Regions from separate parts of the Homo sapiens genome. Here region 2 is linked to region 1. A link means that fine-mapping ties the variant in region 1 to the expression of a gene that starts in the linked region. Tissue or cell type: whole blood. Region 1 holds a variant in brackets; the other region holds the start of a gene. All regions are shown on one strand. Distances are between the middles of the regions.

Region 1 (8,104 bases):
CCTTCCTTCCTTCCTTCTTTCTCCCTTCCCCTCCCTTCCCTTCCCCTTCTTTCTCCCTTCCCCTCCCTTCCCTTCCTTTCCCCTTCCCCTCCCTTCCCTTCCCTTCCCCTTCTCCTTCCTTCCTTCCTTCCTTACTTCTCTCTTTCTTTTTTGGTTGAGACAGGGTCATGATCTCTCACTCAGGCTAGACTGTAGCGGCATGGTCATGGCTTGCTGCAACCTCAACCTTTCAGGCTCAAGCCATCCTCCCACCTCAGCCCCCAAGTAGCTGGGCTTGCAGGTGTGCACCACTACACTTGGCTAATTTTTAAATTTTTTGGAGAAATGGGGTCTCCCTGTGTTGCCCAGGCTGGTCTCAAACTCCTGGCCTCAAATTATCCTCCTGCCTCAGCTTCTCAAAGTGTTGGGATTACAGGTGTTAGCCACCTTGCCCAAGCTTGCATTGATAGTTTTTTTGAAGTTACTTAGCCTGGTGCAGTGGCTTGTGCCTGTAGTCTGAGCTTCTTGGGAAGCTGAGATGGGAGGATTGCTTGAGCCTAGGAGTTTGAGGCTGCAGTGTTCTCTGATCGTGCCACTGCACTCCAGCCTGGGCAACAGAGCAAGACCCCATCACTGGGGGAAGGGGGGAAAGGTTATATATACTATCTTCTTGTCTTAGGGATTTTTTTTTTTTTTTTTTTTGAGACAGAGTCTCGCACTGTCACCCAGGCTGGAGTGCACTGGCGCGATCTCAGCACACTGCAAGTTCCGCCTCCTGGGTTCATGCCATTCTCCTGCCTCAGCCTCCCGAGTAGTTGGGACTACAGGCACCCACCACCACGCCCAGCTAATTTTTTGCATTTTTAATAGAGACAGGGTTTCACTGTGTTAGCCAGGATGATCTCGATCTCCTGACCTCAAGTGATCCGCCCGCCTTGGCCTCCCAAAGTGCTGGGATTCCAGGCATGAGCCACCGTGCTGGGTCATCTTAGGGACTTTTTTTTTAACTTATTCTATTAAGAAAGCAATACCTGCTTTTCTCCTCTTAAGGAGATGACATGCCCAGAGATGCTCAATTAATTGGTCTGAAGAGGAGCTGTGGCATGGGCTTATTTCCCCCTTCAGGAACCATTGTTCCAATGTATTTAACCTATAACTCTCCCTGACATGACTTTTCAGAAACATGTTTGGGCCAAATCCATCTGCAAGCACAGATTCCAGTTCCTTTGCATCCAGTGGAAATTCAGAGCCTGCAAAACATTTGCAAGAGTGTCATTCTTTCTTTTCTCCTCTTCCAGAATCATCACCTATCTTTACTGGCAGATCACAGAGGGAAGGAAGATTATGATAAGGCTGCTCCATGAGCAGATCATTAATGTAAGTCCCCTTGGATCCCTCTGATGTCCGCCCTCACCCTTTTTAAACGCTGTATAAACATCCTCCAAAATAAAGAGAATACTACAATGAACTCTCATATCCCTGCTCTCAGCCCTAACAACCATCAATGTTTTTATATTCTTATTTCATCTACACTTTCTCTTCCCAGCAAATCCCTTATTTTTATTCTTAGTATTTATTTATTTTAATTATGATGATTATTATTATTATTTTGAGATAGAGTTTTGCTCTTGTTGCCCAGGCTGGAGTGCAGTGGTGCAATCTCGGCTCACGGCAACTTCTGCCTCCAGGGTTCAAGCGATTCTCCTGCCCCAACCTCCCAAGTAGCTGGAATTACAGGTGCCTGCCACCATGCCCAGCTAATTTTTGAATTTTTAGTGGAGACAGGGTTTCACCATGTTGGCCAGGCTGGTCTCGAACTGCTGACCTCAGGTGATCCACCTGCCTCCCAAAGTGCTGGGATTACAGCCATCACACCCAGCCTTATTTTATTTTTTTAGAGGTGGGGGTCTTGCTATGTTGCCCTGGCTGGATTCAAATTCCTGGGCTCCTGCCTCAGCCTCCGGAGTAGCTGAGATTACAGGCAGGTGCCACTCCATCTGGCTCCCTGGATTATTTTAAAGCAAATCTTAGGCTTTATATTATTTTTTATTTATTAAAACTTAGATATATATATATATATATCTCTCTATAAGATAAATACTTTTATTTCATTTATTTATTTATTTTGAGACAGAGTTTCACTCTTGTTGCCCAGGTTGGAGTGCAGTGGAGCAATCTTGGCTCACTGCAACCTCCGCCTCCCGGGTTCAAGCAATTCTTCTGCCTCAGCTTCCCGCATAGCTGGAATTACAGGCGCCTGCCACCACACCCGGCTAATTTTGTATTTTTAGTAGAGATGGGGTTTCTCCATGTTGGTCAGGCTGGTCTCAAACTTCCGACCTCAGGTGATCCGCCCGCCTCGGCCTCCCAAAGTGCTAAGATTACAGGTGTGAGCCATCGCCCCCAGCTGAGATAAAGACTTTTAAAAATAACTACAATATCATCATCACACTTAAAAAACTTAACAATAATTTATTATTATCATCTTATATCCAATGTTTACATTTCCCCAACTGTCCCCTTAAGTGTCTTTTTATACTAGAACTGCACAAATCAGGATCTGAAAAGGGGGTACATGTTGCATTTGGTTAATGTCTCTCTCTCTCTCTCTCTCTTTTTTTTTTTTTGAGACAGAATCTCACTGTGTCTCCCAGGCTGGAACGCAGTGGCATGATTTTGGCTCACTGCAACTTCTGCCTCCTGGGTTCAAGTGATTCTCCTGCCTCAGCCTCCTGAGTAGCTGGGATTACAGGTGTGTGCCACCACGCCCAGCTAATTTTTGTATTTTTAGTAGAGACGGGGTTTCACCATGTTGACTAGGCTGGTCTCAAACTCCTGACCTCAAGTGATCCACCTGCCTTGGCCTCCCAAAGTGCTGGGATTACAGGCGTGAGCCACTGCGCCCAGCCAATATGCCTAACTTTCTTTTACTCTATAACCATTTACCACTTCCCCTCCCCACTTCCTCTTTTCTTTTTATTGTTAAAGAATGCAGGTCATCTGTTTCATATTTTCCATATCCTACATATATCTTTTTTTTTTGTTTTGACATGGAGTCTTGCTCTGGGGCACGTGCCTATGGGGGATACTGGAAACCATTTTTCCTGGGTATTGAGACGTGGCATGTAAGTTGCTTCCAGCAGCCGACTTCTGGAGGCTACTTTCTCAAGCCTGTTAGGGGAATTGCTTTAGAGGAGAATATTACAGTGCAGGAAGGCTCTGGGGGATAATTTGGTTTTACTGTGAAATGTTTCTTTTCTTTCACCAAAAGATGGCAGTAACCTCCATCCAACTTCTAGGATCCTAGCTGCCTGAAAACCGACGTTCTTCCCATCAATTGCTTTCTCAATTCCATACCATCATTCATTCATATTTTTGTTTCTTTCTGGTTTTGTTTTCCTTCTTGGTAGGAGGGCAAAGATAAAATGTTCCTGATAGAAAAATTGATCAAGCTGCAGGATATGGAGAAGAAAGCAAACCCCAGCTCACTTGTTCTGGAAAGGAGAGAGGTGGAGGTGAGTCTGGAGGCTGCCTTGGGGACCCCTGGGACACGAGCTTGCCTCCATGTAAAAAGCGCGTCAGAGAACTACAGACCAAGCTCTTGGGATCATGGAAGGGCCCTTCACTCTCTGTCTTAAGTATTTCTGTGGTTTTTACTTAAAAAGTAATATTCATGGCCAGGTGCAGTGGCTCACGCCTGTAATCCCAGCACTTTGGGAGGCCTACGCGGGTGGATCAAGAGGTCAGGAGTTTGAGACCAGCCTGGCCAATATGGTGAAACCCTGTCTCTACTAAAAATACAAAAGTTAGCTGGGTGTGGTGGCACGCACCTGTAGCCCCAGCTACTTGGGAGGCTGAGGCAGAAGAATTGCTTGAACCCAGGAGGTGGAGGTTGCGGTGAGCCAAAATCATGCCACTGCACTCCAGCCTAGGTGACAGAGTGGCACTCTGTCTCAAAAAAAAGTAATATTCATTTTTTCAGCACTTTTCATGCCTGTACTTTTTCTAGGTGCTGGGGTTACGGTGAACAAAACAAAGCCCCCGCCCTCATGGAACTTGCA[C/T]GCTTGTTTTTCACAACCCCGATAATACAGAAGTAGATCCCACTGAGATGAAAAGGGCCCTGAAATCTCATCTCACTATGAATACTTCAGTGTCTATTCTTTTTTTTTTTTTTTTTTTTTGAGACGGAGTCTCGCTCTGTCGCCCAGGCTGGAGTGCAGTGGCGGGATCTCGGCGCACTGCAAGCTCCGCCTCCCGGGTTCACGCCATTCTCCTGCCTCAGCCTCCCAAGTAGCTGGGACTACAGGCGCCCGCCACTACGCCCGGCTAATTTTTTGTATTTTTAGTAGAGACGGGGTTTCACCGTTTTAGCCGGGATGGTCTCGATCTCCTGACCTCGTGATCCGCCCGCCTCGGCCTCCCAAAGTGCTGGGATTACAGGCGTGAGCCACCGCGCCCGGCCTACTTCAGTGTCTATTCTTGCAAATCTATTTCCCTAGGCATCTGCAAACATACCTGTATCTACCAACACTTTAATTTACTTGTTTATTACAAAAGTGAGGCTATATTATACAAATAGTATCATAACTTCCCTCCCCCGCAGCCCACCACTAAATACTATATCTTGAACGATGTTTAATTCTGTACATATTTGGATATTTGGGTTGTTTCTATGTTTTTAAATACTTAAAACAGTAGGTAATGAAACATTTTGTTACAATTATTTTTTGTGCGTTTATAATCGCAGCTACTCAGGAGGCTGAGGTGGGAGGGGAGGACTGCTTGAGGCCAGGAGTTTAAGACCAACATAGCGAGACCCCATCCCTTAAAAAATTTTAATAATTAGGCACGGTGGCATGCAACTGTAGCCTCAGCTACTCAGGAAGCTGAGGTGAGAGGACTGCTCAAACCCAGGAGTTTGAGGCTACAGTGAGCTATGATCCCATCACCGCACTCCAGCTTGGGAGACAGAACAAGACCCTCTCTCTAAAAAAAATTACCCTGGGCACAGTGGCTCCCTCCTGTGATCCCCAGCACTTTGGGAGGCCGAGGCGGGCTTATCACTTGAGGTCAGGGGTTCGAGACCAGCCCAGCAAACATGGTGAAACCCATCTCTAGTAAAAATATAAAAAACAAAAACAAACAAACAAGAAAACTTAGCTGGGTGTTGTGGTGCACATCTGTAATCCCAGCTACTTGGGAGGCTGAAGCACAGGAAATCACTTGGACCCAGGAGGTGGAGATTGCAGTGAGCCAAGGTCACACCATTGCACTCCAGCCTGGGCAACAGTGCAAGACTCCGTGTCAAAAAAAAAAAAAAATTAAAAAGTTATTTTTTGTGAATATTTCTGCCACAAAGCACGTACATGACAATGTTAATAGATATTGCTATATCATTCCCTTAAAAAGATTTAATCAATTTCATTCTTACCAAGAGAATATAAAGATACATGAAACCCTGCTCTAATTCCAAAGCCTTGCTTGCTTCCTGAGTGTCCTGAAAATACAGATGAACAGTAAATCCACCTTAACGCAAATACCACTTATGTTGGAAATTGTGATCTTGACAGAAGTGACTGACAAGTAATTTACCATCTGTGCAAATTTATACTGTCAGCACAATTTAGGTAAGGGATCTAGAGGCCTAAAGGTAGATTCTCTGAAGGTGAGGACCACGTCTGTGCACTTGTCACCCCACGTCCTAATTTATTACCTGGCATAATATGAATGCTCAGTGAATATCTGTGGAACGGCCAGGTGCGGTGGCTCACGCCTGTAATCCCAGCACTTTGGGAGGCCGAGGTGGACAGATCACTTGAGGTCAGGAGTTTGAGACCGGCCTGACCAACATGGTGAAACCCTGTCTCTACTAAAAATAAAAAAAAAAAATTAGCTGGGCGTGGTGGCAGGCACCTATAATCCCAGCTACTCCAGAGGCTGAGGCGGGAAAATCGCTGGAACCCGAGAGGCGGAGGTTGCAGTGAGCCGAGATCATGCCATTCCACTCCAGTCTAGGAGATAAAGCAAGACTCTGTCAAAAAAAAAAAAAAAAAAAAAAAAAAGAGTATCTGTGGAATGAATGAATGGAATCACTCTCCCTAAAAAACAAAACATGTTCAATATTTCTATGGCGGAGACTTGGCCTTAATCTCTCATCCCTTAACTTCTATAAAATGGTGAGGGGCTCACAAATTGTGCCAAATATGTGACAAGACCCAGAATCTGCATTCTTCCTCCGTGACGTGGCTGCTTGTTTTTTTCTTTTTCAGCAACAAGGCTTTTTGCATTTGGGGGAACATGATGGCAGTCTTGGTGAGTAATTAAACTGGGACAGAATAAGACACTAATTTATTTCTGGTGAAATATCCTAAGACAAGTGTAAGAATTGCTCATGTGTCCATTACTTTTTCAGTTGCAAATTGGATCCAAACTGGCTTAAACAAAATTCCAAGAATAATTCTTGCTTTAGGCCTTGCCTAACGCAGGAACTCACAGTGTCACCAGAACCCGGTTTCTTTCAGTTCCGTTCTTACCCATGTTAGTTCCTTTTGCAATAGACTCTGCCTAATAAGTGCAAGACAGCTTTATCAACTTCTTATATCTTCTCAGAGTCAGTCTGGTGGGAAAGACTGAGGGACCCAGGATTCTCACGGTGTTTCATAGGATCTGACTGGGTGATGTCCCCGTCTATGAACCAATTGTTGTGGGTGCAAAAATGTGGCAGTTCCCTTGATCACATGATTTCATCTGTAGATGCAGGTGGTGCAACCATGAAGACCATAGGGACCAAGAGTAGGGAAGGGTGACTTCCTAAAGAAAATCTGGGGCTGATGCCAGGAGAGCGAATTCTGGGCAGGAAACAAACAAGCAAACCCATTTATTTTTGGGGGATAGCATTTACTGATGACTTCCAGTGATGGGAGTTCAAGGGAAGGATTATAGAAACTAAAAGGAAGAGGCAAAGAAGGCATGAGAAGCTATGGAATCTTGAAGGCAAGCTGGTCTTTCCCTTGTAGAGATGGGGCAGAGTGTGCCTGCGTTAACTTCTCTTTCCTGTGTCAAACCTAGACTTGCGATCTAGAAGATCAGTTCAAGAAGGTAATCCAAGGGCCTGATGACTCTTTTGGTAACCAGACACCAATCAAATAAGGGGAGGAGACGAAAATGGAATGATTTCTTCCATGCCACCTGTGCCTTTAGGAACTGCCCAGAAGAAAATCCAAGGCTTTAGCCAGGAGCGGAAACTGACTACCATGTAATTATCAAAGTAAAATTGGGCATTCCATGCTATTTTTAATACCTGGATTGCTGATTTTTCAAGACAAAATACTTGGGGTTTTCCAATAAAGATTGTTGTAATATTGAAATGAGCCTACAAAAACCTAGGAAGAGATAACTAGGGAATAATGTATATTATCTTCAAGAAGTGTGTGCAGGAATGATTGGTTCTTAGAAATCTCTCCTGCCAGACTTCCCAGACCTGGCAAAGGTTTAGAAACTGTTGCTAAGAAAAGTGGTCCATCCTGAATAAACATGTAATACTCCAGCAGGGATATGAAGCCTCTGAATTGTAGAACCTGCATTTATTTGTGACTTTGAACTAAAGACATCCCCCATGTCCCAAAGGTGGAATACAACCAGAGGTCTCATCTCTGAACTTTCTTGCGTACTGATTACATGAGTCTTTGGAGTCGGGGATGGAGGAGGTTCTGCCCCTGTGAGGTGTTATACATGACCATCAAAGTCCTACGTCAAGCTAGCTTTGCAGTGGCAGTACCGTAGCCAATGAGATTTATCCGAGACGCGATTATTGCTAATTGGAAATTTTCCCAATACCCCACCGTGATGACTTGAAATATAATCAGCGCTGGCAATTTTTGACAGTCTCTACGGAGACTGAATAAGAAAAAAGAAAAGAAAAGAAATTAGCTGGGTGCGATGGCTTATGCCTGTAATCCCGGCACTTTGGGAGGCTGAGGCAAGCGGATCACTTAATGTCAGGAGTTCAAGACCAGCCTGGCCAACATGGTGAAACCCCGTCTCTACTAAAAATAAAAAAACTAGCTGGGCGTGGTGGTACATGCCTATAATCCCAGCTACTCGGGAGGCTGAGGCAGGAGAATTG
Region 2 (8,087 bases), 26 kb after region 1:
GTTTTCTGTGTATATAACCTTACTTCAATTCCTAACTGATGGATTCCTTAAAAACTTTAATTTTCCCACTCTTCTTACTTTCACAGTGGAAGACTAGGAGACTTCAGGAACTTATGTTTTCTCTGGATGTTTAACTATATGGGTCATCAATGGCTTATGAATACTTAGACAATTCCACTGTTTACCTACACTATTTGTTGGTACAGCAGTTCTGATGATCACCCTACGGTTGTTGATTAGTCAGATATTTCACTACTTTGGCATAAATGAGTCAGGTTTTTGTTGGTTTAATTCCACCCTCTACCACAAAGACACCACGCCTGCTTCTAGGACATATCACATTTTGTTTATGTAAGCAGCACTGGCTGTTGGCCCATAAGTTGTTAAGCTTGATGAGGTAGATTAGAATTTATCTAAAAAGAGAATTTGAACCTTAAATTACACGAGCCATGCTCCTCTGGAGACACACTATTTAATGTTTGCTTCCTTGGCTTCCTCATCACAATAAAGATGTGAAATGCTCATTACGATGAAGATTTCTTTCTTTTTTTTTTTTTTTGGAGACAGGATCTGGCTCTGTTGTTCAGGCTAGAGTGCAGTGGCATGATCTCGGCTCACTAAAACCTCCGCCTCCTGGGTTCAAGCCATCCTCCCACCTCAGTCTCCCAAGTAGCCGGGACTACTGGCACGTGCCACCATGCCCAGCTAATTTTTGTATTTTTTGTAGAGATGGGGTTTCACCATGTTGTCCAGGCTGGTCTCGAACTCCTGAGATCAAGCAATCCTCCTGCCTCAGTCTCCCAAAGTGCTGGGATTACAGGTGTGAGCCACTGTGCCCAGCTATGATCAAGATTTTTAATTTTTTAAAAAATATTTTAAGTCATGGTCTATTGCAAACATCTACAGTAAAAAAGATTTAACATATGTGAATATTTTGACCTAATTTCCTCAGTCTCTTTCTGTACTAAAACAAAAACAAAAACAAAAACTATTATTTATTGAGCCTTTTCTACTTGCCAGGCACTCTTCTAAGTGCTTTAAATGTATTAACTTATTTGATCCTCACAACCCTGAAGCAGGTACTATTAATATTCTCATTTAACAGATAAGAAAACTGAGACAAAGAAAGAGTAGGAAACTTGCCCAGGGCTGCACAAGCTAGGATGCAGTAGAAGTTGCACTCTTATCCGCTTCAGTTTTACTATCAACACTACAGATACAGCTGAAATTCTCCCTTTCATTCTCCTCCTTTCCTCTCCAGAGGTAATTACCATCTTAAAGTTGGTGTATATCATTCTCATGTCACTCCCTTACCGGTTTTTATTTAAGTACCCATAAACAACACAGAGCACTGTGCTAGTGAATAGTTAAGATTTCAATAAATGTTAGCCATTGTTATTTATTATGTCCTTTTAAACACATCTTTAAAGGTAATATAGTCAAATTTATCAATAACGTCCTTTATGGGTGGAGATTTTTCTGCTTTATTTAAATCTTTTCCTTTTCCCATGTGATACAGATGTACGACTATTTTGGAAAAACACATCACATTTTCCCTCTGCTCTCACAACAATCAACCCCGACGTCTGTGACCAAAAATGTGGGGGTTTTTCCCCACCAATAAGTAGTGGACACCAGCTGGGTATCCTCCAACTCAATTTTGACACTATCTACCTGGAGATAGTGTCAGATCATAGGTTGAGGGCTTGGTCCCCAAGACTGCACCCCACCCTCCTCCAGACACAAATAGCAAGCTGGGGCCTATGGAACTTCTGACCAATTGGCTTCAAGTCCTCTTAGGTTTATTTTAGTTTTTATTTTTTTAATTCCTCTTAGGTTTTTATGGAAGCTTCATGATGTCAGCATTCCTTCCCCCAGGGTATAGGGTGGGGTCCCTCTCTGAGGAGGGTCTTAAGACTCACAATTTGAAAGACAGGGAAAGATTCCAGTCCTGCCTTGGGGTAGGTGAAAGGAGGGCAGGAGAGATTCTGTTTCCCAAGGCCTGCTCCTAAGGCCTAGGATGCCTAACAAAATACTGTAGCAAGGGCTGAGAGTTATGAGCCAGGAACCATGGATGAAAACCTATATATGTGTGTGTATGTGCATATATATATATATATATATATATACATACACAATACTTAATAGATTACAATATAGTGTAAACATAACTTTTATATGCACTGGGAAACCAAAAAATTTGTGACTCCCTTTATTACTATATTTGCTTTATTGACTATTTACTCAGGTCTGGAACTGAACTTGCAATATCTCCTATATATACTAATATGTGAATTAGAACCAGGGATTCATCTTTTTATCTCAATTACTGGAATAACATAGAAGTACTGGTAAAGCTGGCCAGGCAGTGGCTCATGCCTGTGATCCCAGCACTTTGCCTGTAATCCCAGCACTCTGTAATCCACTGAGGCAGGTGGATCACTTGAGGTCAGGAGTTTGAGACCAGCCTTGCCAACATGGCAAAACACCATCTCTACTAAAAACAAAAAACAAAAATTAGCTGGGAGTGGAGGAGTACATCTGTAATCTTAGCTACTTGGGAGCCTGAGGCACAAGAATCGCTTCAACCTGGGAGGTGGAAGTTGCAGTGAGTTGAGATCGCCCCACTGCACTCAAACCTGGGTGACAGAGAGAGACCCTGTCTCAAAAATAAATAAATAAATAAAATTATTGGTAAAGTCGAATGTATACATACATATATACATTTCTGACAGTGCTAGAATTTCTGGTAGATTATAAATGAGATATAGAAGGAAAAACTTGATAAATGTGAGTTGAGTGTATTCCAAAAACAGATACACTACTATAAACAGTGGCAAAGGAATGAAATTACACCCACAGTACATTCTCCACATGGGCCAGAGTGCAGCTTTAAAAGTATAAATCTTGGCCGGGCACGGTGGCTCATGCCTGTAATCGCAGCTACTCGGGAGGTTGAGGCAGTAGAATCACTTGAACCTGGGATACAGAGGTTGCAGTGAGCTGGGGTTGCGCCGATGCACTGTAGCCTGGGAGACAGTGAGACTTCGTTTAAAAAAAAAGAAAAAAAAAAAGAAAAAAAAAGGAAATGAGGGAGGCCAGGCATGATGGCTCATGCCTGTAATCCTAGTACCTTGGGAGGCCGAGGCGGGTGGATCACTTTGAGGCCAGGAGTTTGAGACCAGTCTGGCCAACATAGCAGAACCCCATCTCTACTAAAAATACAAAAATTAGCTGGGCGTGGTGGCACACGCCTGTAATCCCAGCTACTCCGGAGGCTGAGGCACGAGAATCGCTTGAACACGGGAGGCAGGGGTTGCAGTGCGTGGAGATTGCACCACTGCCCTCCAGCCTGGGTAAAAGAGTGAGACTCTGTAAAGTAAAAAAAAAAAAAAGAAGAAGAAGGAAGGAAGAAGAGAGAGAAAAATAAAAAAGAAGAGAATCAGATATATTTACACAGATGCAAAAGTGCCTAATCCACTGAAAAGCCCTCTCTGTAAGCTGTCATTATTATGAAGCTAGGAGAATGCCAAGAGCTGGGAGGTATCAAAAGTTTCAGGAGTGCCTTGTGAAAAGGAGGGGGCAGAAACTGATGTGAGTCCAGCTGCCAGGGTTGTGCGAGTGCGAATGTGTGTGTCTGGGGAAAAGGTGATAAGGAAATGACTCAAGTGATTTACAAGACAAGCAAACGTATGTCTTGTGAAGGGTGATCTATTTAGACTAACCTCAATTACTGACCAAGAACCTATTTGACCTGACCCATTTTCTACTTCATTCACACACCAGTCTTTGTTCTCTTCCTTGAAGTCAGGCCACACACTGCCTCTTCTGTTACCTGAACACCCCTATATTATTCCCATCTCAGGACCTTCTGCACCTGCCTGGCTCCTTATAATTCCGGTTTCTGTTCAAATGTTGCTTCTTCGGAGACGATTTCTCTTGACTATTCCATCTAAATAAAATAGCGTAACTCTTTCCTTCGAGTTCCCCCGATTTCTTCATTGCACCTTTCACTCTCTTAAAGTTATCTCATTTATGTGTTTACTTGTTTAAGGCTTGCCTCCCCCATTCCGATGTACACTCTGTAAACCAGGGACACTTTTGACCTTGTTCCTGGCTGTATGTAACCTTAGCGTCAGGCGCACAGAAACTATATACATATCTGCTGTCTTCTGTAAATATAAAACCTCAAGTCCGGAGATCCCTAGACACTGGGAGCGATCAAGGGCCGGGAGTGTGCCTTGTGGACGAATGAGGAAGTGGGAAGGCCGTCCTGAGAAGATCGGGGAACCCTGGGAAGGAAAAGTAGAAGTCCGAGCTCTCGGGAGGACCGAGGGGCGCGAACGTGGGGGTCTCACCTGCCGAATGGCCGCCAGCGTGTTCTCGGGCGCGTCGTGGCTGCCGCCACGGTGGGCGATGGCAGAAATGCGGTCCCGGGGCTTGAGCACCTGCAGGGCCCTGCAAGAGGGCACCGGCTCAAAGCTGAAGACGCGCAGTAGAACGAAGAGGCTGCCGGTGAGGAGGCAGGCATTGACCGGGCTCCGCGTCACCAGCAGCAGCACTAGCAGCAGGAAGGAGAAAGGGCCCAGGAGGCCGCCCTGGTCCTCCCACAGCCACATGCCGGCGCCCGCACCGGCACGGACGGGAGTCCCGGACCCGCCGGGCTCCTGGGGCAGTAGAACGAGAAGCGAGGGGGAGGGTCCAAGGCACCGGCAGCAGCAGGAACCCTCTGAGGGGACCAGCGCCGCACAATGGCGGCAGCAGACACATCCAGAGAGGGAGTCGGCCGCCCAGCCAATCAGGGATCGGGATTCGCAGCGCCAGTGGGCGGAGCCGCTCCATGGCAACGGGGGAGGGCCCAGGCCCCAGGCCCCAGGCTCACGTTCCAAATCTAAGGTGGGTTAGGGTTTTCCGAGGTCTGAACTTCAACCTGGGCGTTCAGACTCCTAGGCGAGAAAAGGAGGGATAAGAACCATCCTAAAGCTGTAGGACTGGAAGGGATTTTAGTGACTCCTTTATCTGCCCTTGAGGAAACTGAATTCCAGGGAACCTGGAGAGGCAGGATGCTTAGACTATCAATTCAATTCAATTCAATTCAGTTCAGTTCAGTTCAATTCAAGATGTGCCAAATACCGGTCCAGGTGCTCCGGACACAGTTGAACAGGACCTACAGGGTTTTTGCTCTTATGGGATTCACATTCTTGTGGGAGGAAATAAAAGTTAGCAAGTACACCTAACGTTTACAGAGCACTTACCATGTCCCAGGTACTTGACGAGCAAACACTTTATATGCTTATCTCATTCTCAATACAGCCTAACAGTTACTATCAGGAGACTGATTTCAATCGACTTTATTTTCCAGATTCTGGGGGACTGGAAGAGCCTAGCAAAGAAGGCACAATCGGATTATAAAACTGGAAGGGGTTTTAAGGATTCCCTTATTTCATAGATGCGGAAACTGAGGATAGGTGAATTAAGCAGTTAATGGCAGGGTGGGGACTGACATAAAGGCCTCCCCAGTGATTTGTGACATTTTCACTCCTCCTCCCCCTAATCTTACTTCTGCTAAGGGCTTTTGTACCAGGCACTGTACAGGAGTTACCTCAACTGTGCCTCACAACCACCCTTGTGATAGGCACTTTTAAAACCCCCATTTTACATATGCAAAAACAGGCACTGGAAGGAGGGTAAGAGAGATAGACCATGAAGCCGAGTTAGGGAGTGAAAAGGGGCCCCTGGACATATTTTGGAGGGCTGGTAACATTTTTATGTAGAGAACTTTGCAAAAATATTCAGGGATTTTTCTGTTACCTTTTTTTCCTTTAGTGCATTTTCCCACTGATTTGCAAAAGGGGATAGATGTCTTAAGCCTTCCAGTTGGCATCTAGGATTCAGCCTTTTTTTTTTTTTCTTTCAGACAGTCTCACTCTATCGCCCAGGTTGGAATGCAGTGGTGCAATCATGGCTCACTGCAACGTCGACCTCCTGGGCTCAAGCGATCTTCCGACCTCAGCCTCCCGAGTAGCTGGGATCACAGGCTCGCGCCACCCCACCCGGCTAACGTTTAAAATTTTTGTAGAGATGCCGTCTCCCTTTGTTGCCCAGGCTGATCTCGAACTCCTGGGCTCAAGCGATCCTTCCGCCTCGGCTTCCAAAATGTTGGAATTATAGGCGTAAGCCATCACGCCCGGTGGGTTCAGCAAGTTTTTACCTACAAGAAAATATTTTGGTGAATGTTACATGTTTTCTAACGGCTGCATAGAAAGGGGTTATCTTTATACAGATAAGAAAAAAATGGCAACTTCAAGGAACACTTCAGGGGGCTTCAGACCCTGAGGGGTGTTCCTATTCTACTAAATAAGTAAATTTATTAATAAATTCTAGTCTCTAGCTTGCAAGGAAGACTACGTTTCCCGGCGTGCAGCGTGCTGGCCGTAAGCATTACGTCCTCCATCGCGGGCGCGCAATGCACCTCGGGGATGGTAGTGTTCTGGTGGCCCAACGGTTTTAACAGCCCGGGAATCAACCACCGGAAGTGCCGGCCCTGAGAGGTGGAGTCGGGGTGGCAGCGGCGGCGGTTGCCAGGAGCCCGCGTTGCAGCCTGAGATCCGTAATATGGCGGGGAGGAGGAGGAGAAGGCGGCGGCGGACCGAGCTGCGCTCTGTCAGTACCATTTGAGCCATTCGCTTCCTGACAAGGCCCGTGGCGAGGGGAGAGGAGCTGAAGGGGCCGTGGGGGATCAGGTGTGTGCATGAGGAGGGGGCTTGAGCCTTGACGGGTCCGGGCTGAGAGGTGGTCTGGCGAGGCGAAATTGGCGCCCTGAGAAGCTGAGGGCGGGCTCTGTGCTGGGCTCCCGGGCCTCGAGCCCCCTGGAAAGGCGCCGGCTGTTGGGAGGCGGGACCCCGGGGGCAGCCAGCACCGGGCGCTGAGGTGATGCTCCGATGCTGGCCCCGCCTGGAGGGCCCTCGGTTTGGAGTCTTAAATCGGAGGAGCTGGAGGAGGTGGGCATGGGGCGCTGGGGAGAGGGCAGGGGGCCGTCCCTGGTGAATAAAACTCGGGCCAGAGCCGGAGAACCCCATCGTGGTGATCAAATTGTTTGGGCCGTTTTTCTTCTCCCTCCCACGGTGCTGGAGAGGGAGGCTTCCCCGGGGTGTGCATTGGCCATTTATGAGCCCCTGTTTCCACAACCAAGGCCCTAGGAGCGCTGCTTACTTCGCCTTTGCCACTCTGGGGCATAAACTTGAGGATAATAAAGTAATCGATTGCCCCTGGAGCTGCTAGATGGTTCCCACCCTTTGATTCTATTCTGGTTACGATCCAAGCTCCCTACCCCCAGTTTAGGCAAATGGCAGCCATCTCGAGATTGATTTGACGGGGAGAGGTCTAGGGACAGGGAAATGAGGAAGCCGTTGTCCCCTTTTCTATATTTTTCAGTTTCATTTGAAACCTACGGGGAACCAAGCACTGTCGCTGCCCTCCAGGAATTCATACTCTACTGCTAAAAATCGTCATCATCATTATCCTCTTAATAAGAAAAGCAGTCCCCATTATTTGTTGCTTTCTGCGTGTTCTGCACTACGTTAATTGCCCTACATGCATTAGCTCATTGAATTCTTACAACATTCCTTTGAGACGGATACCGTGATCATCCCTCTTTTACAGAGGACGAAACAGGTGTGGGGATGGTAACTGGCTTGCCAAGAACTTGCAGCTAGTACGCATCTGAATAAGAAATCTTCCCCTTTACCGCTTTTACAAGAAGTTTGCGTCTTTGGCGGAACTGATGGGCAAAGAAACACTAGGTTCTGCAAAAAAAAAGCAGGATCTGTTCTGTGTTACTTTTACCACTCTTTTCAGTGACATGTCTGGCAGAGCACGGGTAAGGAGCAGATAGGACCATGAGTCTACGGGGTTTGCAAAGAGGCTCATTTGCACAAGGGTCAGTGGTTCTCTGTGGTATAAATGGAGAAGACGGCATGTCTGAACCTGCTGTAGCTGACAAATTATTACTGGAAGTGGACCAGTGATGCCTGATGGCAAGATATAGAGCAGTAGATTTGTGGCTGGGGTAGCCTTGTAGTCAGGGC

The links. PIP is the estimated chance that this variant, and not a neighbour inherited with it, causes the effect.
Region 2: it holds the start of GDE1, and the variant in region 1 is fine-mapped to the expression of GDE1 in whole blood (TOPMed, PIP above 0.99).

Annotation. Positions count from the first base shown.
Region 1 is chr16:19,490,873-19,498,976 of GRCh38, forward strand. TMC5 (transmembrane channel like 5) reads left to right here. Exons shown (of 22, transcript NM_001261841.2): 19 at 1,278-1,356; 20 at 3,390-3,494; 21 at 6,249-6,291; 22 at 7,048-8,104. The coding sequence ends at 7,094. It also overlaps the pseudogene RNU4-46P. Among named protein-coding and RNA genes, the nearest start is that of TMC5-AS1, 7.0 kb to the left of the region's middle. RefSeq lists a silencer at 5,638-5,849. The variant C/T (reference allele first, on the strand shown) is at 4,041.
Region 2 is chr16:19,517,346-19,525,432 of GRCh38, forward strand. GDE1 (glycerophosphodiester phosphodiesterase 1) reads right to left here and starts at 4,753. Exons shown (of 6, transcript NM_016641.4): 1 at 4,359-4,753. The coding sequence starts at 4,619. CCP110 (centriolar coiled-coil protein 110) reads left to right here and starts at 6,597. Exons shown (of 14, transcript NM_001323572.2): 1 at 6,597-6,743. RefSeq lists enhancers at 4,035-4,094, 4,220-4,954, 4,265-4,434 and a silencer at 4,545-4,714.